3 linked regions of the Homo sapiens genome follow. The protein of the gene in region 2 purifies or fractionates together with the protein of the main gene of each other region. This does not show direct contact. Each region holds a gene or a part of one and is shown on either strand. Other genes may lie near its edges. The genes, in order: NAA30, VASH1 and ISOC2.

Region 1 (3,651 bases), about 19 Mb from region 2:
TACACTTACCAGATGACCAGCGAGGGTCAAAGGTAATACACTGCGGTGATGGAAGGCAGAAAAATTAATCTGGTTCTTCTAGAAGTAACATTGGCCTTTGGCCTCATCCCCATAAGTGGATCTTGGAGGTTAAAAACATGATAGACCTCCATGTTCCAACTTGACCACTCATGAGATGACCAATCTCATTTAGAAGTGAAATGATTTCAAATTCATCAAAAATGAGAAATTATTAGAGCCAACTATACAAATATTTTAAGGCTAAAAAGGTAAGTCTCATCAGAAACAACTTTTGGCACTTGAATCTGCATCTCTGCAACCCAAGGAACTTCCAACAATAAAATCTGAAAGGGCTGCTTTTCTCAGAAAGGCTACATAACAAGGGCAGTGGTTGGTGGGGTGGAAAGTGGTCAAACACTGTATTAATGAAATATATTGTCAGTATAAACAGTTCAGCTATACTCTTGCTCAGAGGTAATTTTTAGTTGTGTTATTTTAAAAGATTTTTCAGAAACAGTCTTGCTATGCTGTCCTGGCTGGTTGCAAACTACCATCTCAGCCTCCCAAAACGCTGGGATAATAGGCGTGAGCCACCACATCTGGCCTAATTGTGATCCTTCCATTTTATCTTTCAACCTATACAAACACTCCCTTCCTGTTATTACTGCTTATCTAAAGCTCTGCTGTCCAATACAGTAGCCACAAGCCACATGTGGCTAACTTTGATTAAAATTACAAATTCAGCTCAATCATCCCACCCACACTTCAGGGGCTCAGTAGCTACACATGTGACTAGTAACTACCATACTGGGGAGTGAAAAGGACACATCTATCCTTATATAAAGTGTGACTGGACAGTAGTGATCTAAAGTGTAGCAGTGCTATATGCTTATGAGATCTTTTAAAAAACTTTTTAAAAGTTGCTTATAAAAAGAATATCATAGGCTGGGCGTGGTGGCTCACGCCTGTAATTCCAACACTTTGGGAGGCCGAGGCGGGCAGATCACTTGAGGTCAGGAGTTTGAGACCAGCCTGGCCAACATGGTGAAACCCTGTCTCATACTAAGAATACAAGAAATTGGCTGGGCGTGGTGGCATGCACCTGTAGTCCCAGCTACTCAGGAGGCTAAGGCACAAGAATTGCTTGAACCCAGGGGGCAGAGGTTGCAGTGAGCCAAGATTGTGCCACCGCACTCCAGCCTGGGCAACAGAGTGAGACTCTGTCTCAAAAAATAAATCTAACACCTCTGGGCTACAGGTTAATACTGATCTGTGTTTACTGGTGTGAAAAAATGGTATCAACCTTCTGGTTCTTATTTAGACCTTAGAGTGAATTTATGAAGTATTTCGAGTTCCACATAAGGCCCAAATAAAACAAACTCAGATACTTTTACAGTATTACTCTAAAGAATAATGTAAAGATTTGGCATGCATGATAAAAGTAATTTAGCAGTTAAATGATTAAAACAGATCATTTCATCCTTCCACTAAAATCCGAAAATCTTGACATACAGAAGTATTCACAGCTATTTAAAGCTCCTCACAAGACAGGGGCAAAAAGCTCTTTGGATATTGCTCTATTTTACTTTGGTGTCTTACCAAGGGTGGGATGGGGTGGGGGGAACATTACAGAGTGGCAGTGTACAGACAAAAAAGTAAATTAAAATAAAAACTGTCTTAGAAATAAACTGCTATGAAACAGACTAAAAAGATAAACTTTTGACTGAACACATGGAAAATGTACCGATAACTGACATATGAGTTGACTGAGTACTTTTAGAAAAATCAAGTTCATGTTATTTTCAAATTTACTTTGTCAGAACACACAACAGTGATGACAATTATGTAATACTTCTTCCCCGTAACTCTTAGATGAAAGGCAGGAAGCGGGAAACAATATATTGTTTGTTGCTGTTTTACTTAGTAGGTAAAAGCAAAACAACCCAATCATAAAATGCACACAGCTGTATCTAAAAGAAAAATGCAAACACAACTTAACCATACTTTATTTGACTGCATCTTATTTAGACAGCTTGCACATTTCAAATCCCATTAAATCTCTCTCCAAAAGGATATGGGACAATAGAAGAAAATTATGCAGCAATATCCAGTCAAACAGCAGTCCAATATTTTGAGATACACGTGATATTTTATAGATACTCAACTCATATCTGACGTCAATATAATTTATGGTTATGTTTTTACAAACCTGAAAGCCCTGTAACATTACAGCACTCATTTTAGTGATGTCATGGTGCACTGAAAAGTAACTCTGATGTACTACCAATTTGATTTTATCTATACTCCTGAAAAGTGATGAACTTCATGATTTTTAGACACCATAATAAATATACACATCCAGTCTTAGACATGTCAGCCAGTACCATAACACAGGGCAAGGTAAAGTTAAAACATGAAAAAACAAACTGCTTTACATAGATTTGTCGAGCAAGTGGGAAGGGTAATTTGGGAAAGAGGCAGAAAATATTAAAATCGATTTTTTATTTTTTCTTATTTTGCTGGTTTCAACTTCAAAAACTACCGTCTGGTTTCTGATCTGTGGACTTTGCTAAAGTAGTTTCATCCCAATGTACAGGAAATACAGGAAATTATAATCAGCCCACACATCAAAAATGATAGTATACCCGTTAGCTTCTTCAATACTAACATATATAGCTTCATGGTAGCATGTATAAAAATGTTCAGCAGTACCAACTGCCAAACCAGTGTCAGTGGATAGTACAGTCAGTCCTAAAGAGGCAGCACCCCATTAAAAGAAAGTTGCATCTATTTTGCTCAGTTGTAGCCAAGTGAACCCATGCTACCAATTTCAGATAGAATTGTTTTAAGCTTATTTAAGAAAAACAACAGCCTATTATCAAAAAGTAAATTACTGTTTGAGGCTACTTCAACCTGAATGGAGTCTTTCAGTGTTGGTGCTGGGTTTTCATGCTAGAGGTTAAAATTTTAATCTACTTAAGTAAAAATTTTTTTGCATACCCAATTAAAGACATAAGGCATACACTGACATTCAACATATTCCAAACAATATGGCAACCATCTGACTTTTTAGTCACACAGTTAACGTCATCTTTACAAACACCCAACCAGTTCAGTCAATTTGGCAATTTTGGAGGAAAAGGTCAGTATGATGGTTTCATTGACAATCTGGCAAAAACACTAAAATGGTTGAACCAATGATCTATCTACTTTACAACCATCCCTATTAGTGATTTAAGCAAATATATGTTCATCAACCATTATGTATCAACCAGCAAGTCAAATATAAAGAAGTGAAATAAAATTTGATGACATAAATGTTTTAGTTCCATTTCCTTCATATTAAATAACAAAAGCATCACTGTGATTGGTATTCTTCTAAATGCTAGTGCCTAAATGAAGTTTGACCAAAAACATATTGAAAGGCTGAGTACTGTGTGGTTACCATATTTTTATTATAACCAGTATTGTATTCTGCTCATTAAACTTTCAAGAGCAATATAAAAAGGAAAACATTTTCTTTAAAAATAAAGAACTATAAATAATCCCACCAGCAGAAAGTTTTTATTTTCAAATATAAATTGTGTATCTTTATTTTTAAAGTATTTGTTACTATGTTCACTTTCAAAACACTATACTGAGCAAAGAGCA
Region 2 (3,651 bases):
TAGGAGCTGAAATCAGAGGAGGAGAGCTGGTATTTCAATGGCTTGTTCTTGCTACCTGGATACAGACAAAAACCAGACTCTTGGGTGGGGGGCAAAGTTATGTTCAAAGCCATCTAATATTCACGCCCTCCCCCATGACATTCCTGGGTGGCTCACTGCCTTGCAGGGGCCCCATCCTTTCTACCTTTTCTCTCACATAACCCATGCTCAGACTAGTGGGCTAGCAGAGTTTGGTTTCTCTGGGGAAGTAGAACTGCCTTGCTGTGGGAAATGTCAATACACAAACCTCTAAACCCACCATCCCAAGTCACCTCCCTTGGGTGGGAGCGAAAAAGAGAGAAGGGTGGGAGAGAGATAAAAAAAAAAAGGGACCCACACGATGAGAGGAAAGGAAAAAAACCCTCTTTGGACCCACCCAGGCGTGGTCCCTCTCTCACCGTCTTTCACTGCGGCTGTTCCTGCGGTGGGGGCTGGACTGGGCCCGCTGCGGGGAAGAAACATCCTTCTTCCGGTCCTTGGTGGGAGAGGGAGGGCCCGTCCCTTTGCCAATCTAGGTGCAGAGGAGGAAGCAACAGCATCACTCCAGGACTGCCCTGGAGCCCAACCTCTCCTTCCAGGAGCCACAGGTCCCTGGAGGCTGCCCTGGGGAAGGCCCGGGGAACCTCAAGCATGGCTCTTCCCTGTCTGGATCTTTCCCAACCTATTTCCCAGGCACTAAAGCTGCCAGAGCAGGAGTTCCTCCATGGGGCTGTCCAATCCCTGTGGGCTCCTGAAGGCAGAGTGGAAGTGGGGGAAGTCACTGAGATACCATAATATTGCAAAAAGTCCCCAACAAAGGCCAGGTAAACGTGCCAGTTGTGGGAGCAGCCCACACTGAACTTGGGGCTGAGATCCCACTCACCCCAAGGGTGATGCTGGGTATCTCCAGCCATTGAGAAGTCAGACTGGTAGCTTTAGCTCTGCTTAAGAAAAAAATGAGAAAAACAAAAGAGTCATCCTTTATATGGCACCGTCAGCTTGACTTGAGTTTTCAAAACGCAGGAGTGCTGGAGAGGGGCAAGTAACACAGGTGAGTGTTTAGCACTGAATAGGCTGGGAATCCATCACAGCTCTAAACACTAGGGAACTGTTGGCTCTCACCCTAGATCCAATCTGATGCCTTAAAGACACAATAGCAAACTGAGGAGCAAGAGCCAGGGTGCTGGGGGACCCAGAGCTAGGTGGGGAGCGGCAGCTCAGGGGCAGAAGAGAGCAGCCCCTCTCTAACGCAGGGTTGGCTGCAGCCTGCCTCTGCCCTAGGGGAAGGCACTGTCACCCCAGGAGATCTTGGCCTAGGGCTGGCAATGGCTAGGGCAGCCGTAGCTCTTACAAACCCCTGCCAGGACACCTGCAGGCACCTGCAACACACCTGGGTTCCCCATCACCCCATCAGGAGGCTGAGCTCCAGTCTGATCTGCCTCTCACTGCCAGTGAGCAAGACTCTGGGCTTCCAACCCTGAAAATGGAGCTACCACCTACCGCCCGCTGGCCTCCCAGGGCTGTCAAGAGAAGCAGTGCACTTGGGAGTGCAGAGGTCGGTGGTTGAGGCGGAGGCTCCAGGCTGCCTGGAGGGGCAGTCACAGTGCAGCAGTGACTGAGCTATGGAGATACCCAGCAGGGGGCCCTGGCAGCCCCAGGAGAACCCAGGCAGATGTCAGAATTCTGCCTGCTGAAAGGCTCTAGGGCTCAACAGCTCAGCCCAGCTGTTTTTGGTACAACAGCCCCCAGCCCAACTCCCTATCACCTCCTGCTCAAGTGTGGGTGGGAAGAGGAAGAAGGAACACTGCCCTCATTGTCTTCCACATGGTCTGACTTCCCTTTCTTCTGACCACCTCCTAGTCCTTTAATGGTTGCTAGGGTTGGGGGGCAGAGTCAGGATATGTTACAGGAGGAGTGGGGAGGCTGCCCATCACAGCACCCGATCACACCCTCCAGACAGGCCGTGATTCTCCACCAGTGACCTTGCCATGTGCCCAACACCTACCACCATCCAAACCCAGCCCACCCACCTCCTCCCTCCGCAGCCGTCCTGGTCTGCCCACCCCAGGGGACCACCTGAACAATATCGACCACTAAGCAAGGTCCCAGCACCCCAGTCCCCTGAGAAGCTCCCCAGTCCTCTCAATCCTCACATCGCCTCTGCTGGGGCGGGGGAGGGGGCGAGGGAGGGGGCGAGGGCGTGGAAGGCGGGCAGACCTTGAGCCGCATGTCGCGGGCGTGGCGCTCCAGCTCCTTGCGGAAGTCATCGCGGCCCAGGCGCTCCACGTCCAGCACCGAGTGCTTCCACTCGATCTGCTCCACGCTGTGCGGGTCGTGTGACACGCTCTGGCCCAGCTTCACCTTCTTGAGCACGTGCCAGCAGCGGCCGTAGGCGGCCTCGAAGTCCAGCACGAGCTCGCTGAGCGTGCGGAAGGCGGGCGGCTTGTACATCAGGTCCTCGCGCCGACTCATGCCCAGCGCACCGTAGCGGCCCGCGAAGTTCACCCCCAGCACGATGTGGCGGAAGTAGTTCCCTGAGAAGTAGGTCTTGAAGCTGATGGGGAAGCGCTCCAGGGTGGGCATGCTGTTGGTGAGGTAACTGGCCAGTGCCCCGCTAAGGAAAGAGCCAGGAGAAGCACGGGGCCAGCACACCGGGAGGGACTGGGACCGGGAGCCACGGGGTCCACGCACCGCCAGCCTTGGGGTGCAGACACCAGTCCTGCTCATCTCCATACGCCTGGCGTCTCCTCCTGGTATTCCTGCCATCTAGCATTGAGCCTGGTATCCAGCTGGAGCTCAATAAAGGGAACCTCGAATAGGCACGGGGCTTCCAGGGATTTGTGGCCACCGCTCTGAAGTCCAGCAGGGCTGGTGCCACACTGCAGGGCTTTCCAGAGCCCAGTGGCCCAAGGACGGAAGAGAAGCCTTCCCTCCCCTGCCTCACTCCCTCGCCCTCCATCCCGCACCTTGGCACACACACAGGCCACAGACGCGGCTTCACTCTTCTCTTACCCTCACCCTGTCCTCTCCCCATATCCACATGCAACCCTGCCTGTGGCCCTTCAAATACAATCACGTGTACTACTGAGGCCTGGGAGGTGCCCCCAGCCAGCCCCAGGCCCACTCCCACTTCCTACACCTCTGCCCCACCTGCTCACCTCTCCAGCCCCCGGGGCCTCCCACCTGAGTTTCTCACACCGGCCTTTTCCCCTGCCTGCCAAAGTTGGCTGCTGCTCAGGACTGAAGCTGAGCCTGCGCCACCGTCCACCTCCTCCACGGCACTCTCACCATGACCAGTGTTTACTGCTTCTTTTTCCTTACTTGCTTATTTTGTCTCCTCCACTAGAATGCAAACCTCCCAAGCACAGGGCCCTTGTCTGTCATGTTCTTCAGGGCCCAGCATCAAGCCGGGCACACAACAGTTACTCAGTGAAAGTTCTCGAACAAATGGGTAGAAGGACATGAATGGATAGAAGCGTGTAGCAGACACCATGTCCAGCACTGTGCTGCGTCTCACGGCACCGGCTCGGCCCATTGTCCTAACAACTCTACACACTGCCACTATCCCCCTTTGCAGAGGAGGACTCCCAGGCTCAGAGATGTTAAGGAACTTCCTTGGGGGTCACACAGTGA
Region 3 (3,230 bases), on a different chromosome or scaffold from region 2:
GGGCCCCCAGGTCAGGAGGGGATCCAAGATAGGATGGGGCCCACAGGTGAGGAGAGAGGGCCCAGGTCAGGATGGGGGTCCTGCAGGGAAGTGGAGGTTTCTGGTCAGGGAAGGAGGTTCTATTTAGGATGGGGGTCCCAGGTTAGAACGAGGGACCCCTGGGGTCAGTCAGCATCTCACCAAGATGCAGGCCTGTGCCTCAATGCCACAGAGCAGCACAGAGCGCAGCTGGGGCCGACTGTCCAGCTCCTGCTGCAGGGCAGGCACCATGCTGAAGCAGGTCTTGGCCAGCGGCCGAAGGCCCTCAGTCCCCAGCTCGGGCACCGTGGGGCCCAGGCCTTGTGGGTACTGCTCCGTCAGCATGACTGGCACCTCAAGCAGCCGGGCCACCTGTGCCAGTGATGGGGAAGAAAGGTCAGGGTCTGAGGGAGGAGGGGCTGGGCCTGGACTCCTGGGTCTGAGGGAGGAGGGGCTGGGCCTGGACTCCTGGGTCTGAGGGAGGAGGGGCTGGGGGTCTGGACTCCTGGGTGTGAGGGAGGAGGGGCTATGCCTGGACTCCTGAGTCTGAGGGAGGAGGAGCTGGGCCTGGACTCCTGCGTCTGAGGGAAGAGGAAGTGGGCCTGGATCCCTGGGTCTGAAGGAAGAGGAGTTGGGCCTGGACGCCTGGGTCTGAGGGTGGAGGGCTGAGCCTGGATCCTGGGTCTGAGGGTGGAGGGCTGAGCCTGGATCCTGGATCTGAGGGTGGAGGGCTGAGCCTGGATCCTGGGTCTGAGGGTGGAGGGCTGAGCCTGGATCCTGGGTCTGAGGGTGGAGGGCTGAGCCTGGATCCTGGGTCTGAGGGTGGAGGGCTGAGCCTGGATCCTGGGTCTGAGGGTGGGGGGCTGAGGTCATACCTTGAGCATGCGGGCAGCCACTGAGACGATCTGTGGGAAGTAGGCGATGTTGTGGCGGAACTTCTCCTGCATGTCACACAGGAACAGGACAGAGGATCCTGGGAGGACTCGGCCCAGGCTGGGCCTGGCAGCCGCCATTTTCTGGGGGTGGGCAGAGGGACGGTGGGTCAGGCCCGAGGGCTCCTCTCAGTGTCTCCAGCTGGCGTCCAGGTCCTCACACTCAGAGCCTGGCAGGGCCCGGGGCACCTTGCCAACCTTCTTCCCACCTCAAGGTCTCTGTGTCTGCTGTTCCCCGGGCCTAGAATGGGCTTCTTTCTTATTTCTGTCCTATTCGGCAGGGAGGTGACTTCCTTGGGAAGCCTTCTGGGCCACATCCACACGTGGCTCCGGGTGTCCCTCTCCTGGTCCCTGTGTTCTCCTTGCTGAGGACTGTGCACAACGTCAAGGAGTGCTTCATGATCCCGGTTACCATCCGCCCCGGTTACCATCCACCCCAGTTACTATCAGTCCCGGTTACCATCAGCCTCAGTTACCATCTGCCCTGGTTACCATCCACCCCAGTCACCATCCGCCCTGGTCACCATCAGCCCCGGTTACTATCAGATCCCGGTTACATCAGCCCCGGTTACTGTCAGCCCTGGTTACCATCAGCCCCAAAACGGAGGCTCTGCTGGGCGTCCTCCTGTGTTGGGCCAGCCCACTCCCCAGGGCCTCCTGAATGAAGGGTCCACCCTGATCCTCACCCTGCTCCAAGAGGAAACTGAGGCCATATTCTTCAGCCATAGGAAAGAAGGGGGACCCTGCACAGGCCACAACCTGGATAGATCTCAACACAAAGACCACGGAGCGTGCGATCCCGTTTTCCTGAAATGCCCAGAACAGGCAAATCCACAGACAGAAAGCAGATGGGGCCGGGCGCAGTGGCTCACGCCTATAATCCCAGCACTTTGGGAGGCTGAGGTGGGCGGATCAGCTGAGGTCAGTTCAAGACCAGCCTGGCTAACATGGCGAAACCCTGTCTCTACTAAAAATACAAAAATTAGCCAGGCAGTGGCGGGTGCCTGTAACCCAGCTGCTCGGGAGGCTGAGGCAGGAGAATCGCTTGAAGCCCAGGAGGCAGAGGTTGTAGTGAGCCGAGATCACACCACTGCACTCCAGCCTGGGTGACTGAGCAAGACTCTGTCTCAAAAAAAAAAGAGACTGGGCTTGGTGGCACACGCCTGTAATCCCAGGACTTTGGGAGGCCGAGGCGGGCGGATCATCTGAGGCCAGGGGTTTGAGACCAGCCTGGCCAACATGGTGAAACCCCATATCTACTAAAAATACCAAAAATCAGCCAGGCACGGTGGCACGCACCTGTTGTCCCAGCTACTTGGGAGGCTGAGGCAGGAGAATCACTTGAACCTGGGAGGCGGAGGTTGCAGTGAGCAGAGATAGCACCACTGCCAGTCCAGCCTGGACAATAAGAGCAAAACTCCATCTCAAAAAAAAAAAAAAAAGAGAAAGAAAGCAGATGATTGGCTGCCAGGGGCTGTGGCCGGGAGGAATTCAGGTTGACTGCTGGGGGGTGTAGTTTTCAGTTTGGGATGGTGAAAATGCTCTGGGACTTGGTGGTGGCGGCTGCAGAACAGCATGACTATGAATGCCACTCCACTGCATTTTCAAATGGCTGAAAGGGTAAGTTTTATGTTAAGTGCATTTTACCACAATTAAAAAAAAAAAAGAAAAGAAAGAAAAGAAGAGAAAGAAAAAAAGGACAGGCTGGTGAAGCCACCTGGCCAGCAATTCTTTTGCAGGGGAGGAAACCTCGACCCAGAGGGCCCGTTAACCTGCCCTAAGTCCTGCAGCCATACAGGGCACACCTGACTTCCACTCGGTCAGAGCGTCTACGCTGTCAGAGCGTCTACACCGCAGGGGCCCTGAATCAGCACGTCTTGGCCTACGTCCCTGGGAGGCTTGTGCTTTTGGGTCTCCGAGTTTGCTGCACAAGTGAGGGTTTGGGCTGGGCTTTTGTCTGCAGCTCTCTCCCCGTCTGTGTGTACAATTTGTTTGTACTTAACTCATTTATTCATTAATTCACCAGGGAAATGGGAGACCCTGGAGGCTCATTGGAGGCAAGACAGAAGGTGTTCTGGGAAGCTGAGGGAGGCAGGGCACTCAACAAGAAGCTGCTATTTTCTTTTCTTTTTTTTTTTTTTGAGATGGAGTCTTGCTCTGTCACCCAGGCTGGAGTGTAGTGGCGCGATCTTGGCTCACTGCAAGCTCTGCCTCCCAGGTTCAAGGATTCTCCTGCCTCAGTCTCCCAAGTAGCTGGGATTACAGGCTTGTGCCACCATG

Evidence for each region.
Region 1: the proteins of VASH1 (region 2) and NAA30 purify together in Homo sapiens (co-immunoprecipitation; one large-scale study listed by IntAct). This does not show direct contact.
Region 3: the proteins of VASH1 (region 2) and ISOC2 purify together in Homo sapiens (affinity purification with mass spectrometry; one large-scale study listed by BioGRID and IntAct). This does not show direct contact.

Annotation. Positions count from the first base shown.
Region 1 is NC_000014.9:57,411,086-57,414,736, reverse strand, and holds part of NAA30 (N-alpha-acetyltransferase 30), read right to left. Parts: 3' UTR 1-3,651. UniProt on the Homo sapiens protein: Catalytic subunit of the N-terminal acetyltransferase C (NatC) complex. Catalyzes acetylation of the N-terminal methionine residues of peptides beginning with Met-Leu-Ala and Met-Leu-Gly.
Region 2 is NC_000014.9:76,774,858-76,778,508, reverse strand, and holds part of VASH1 (tubulinyl-Tyr carboxypeptidase 1), read right to left. Parts: intron 2,618-3,651; coding exon 2,236-2,617; intron 551-2,235; coding exon 438-550; intron 1-437. UniProt on the Homo sapiens protein: Tyrosine carboxypeptidase that removes the C-terminal tyrosine residue of alpha-tubulin, thereby regulating microtubule dynamics and function.
Region 3 is NC_000019.10:55,455,456-55,458,685, forward strand, and holds part of ISOC2 (isochorismatase domain-containing protein 2), read right to left. Parts: intron 1,035-3,230; 5' UTR 1,032-1,034; coding exon 894-1,031; intron 391-893; coding exon 181-390; intron 1-180.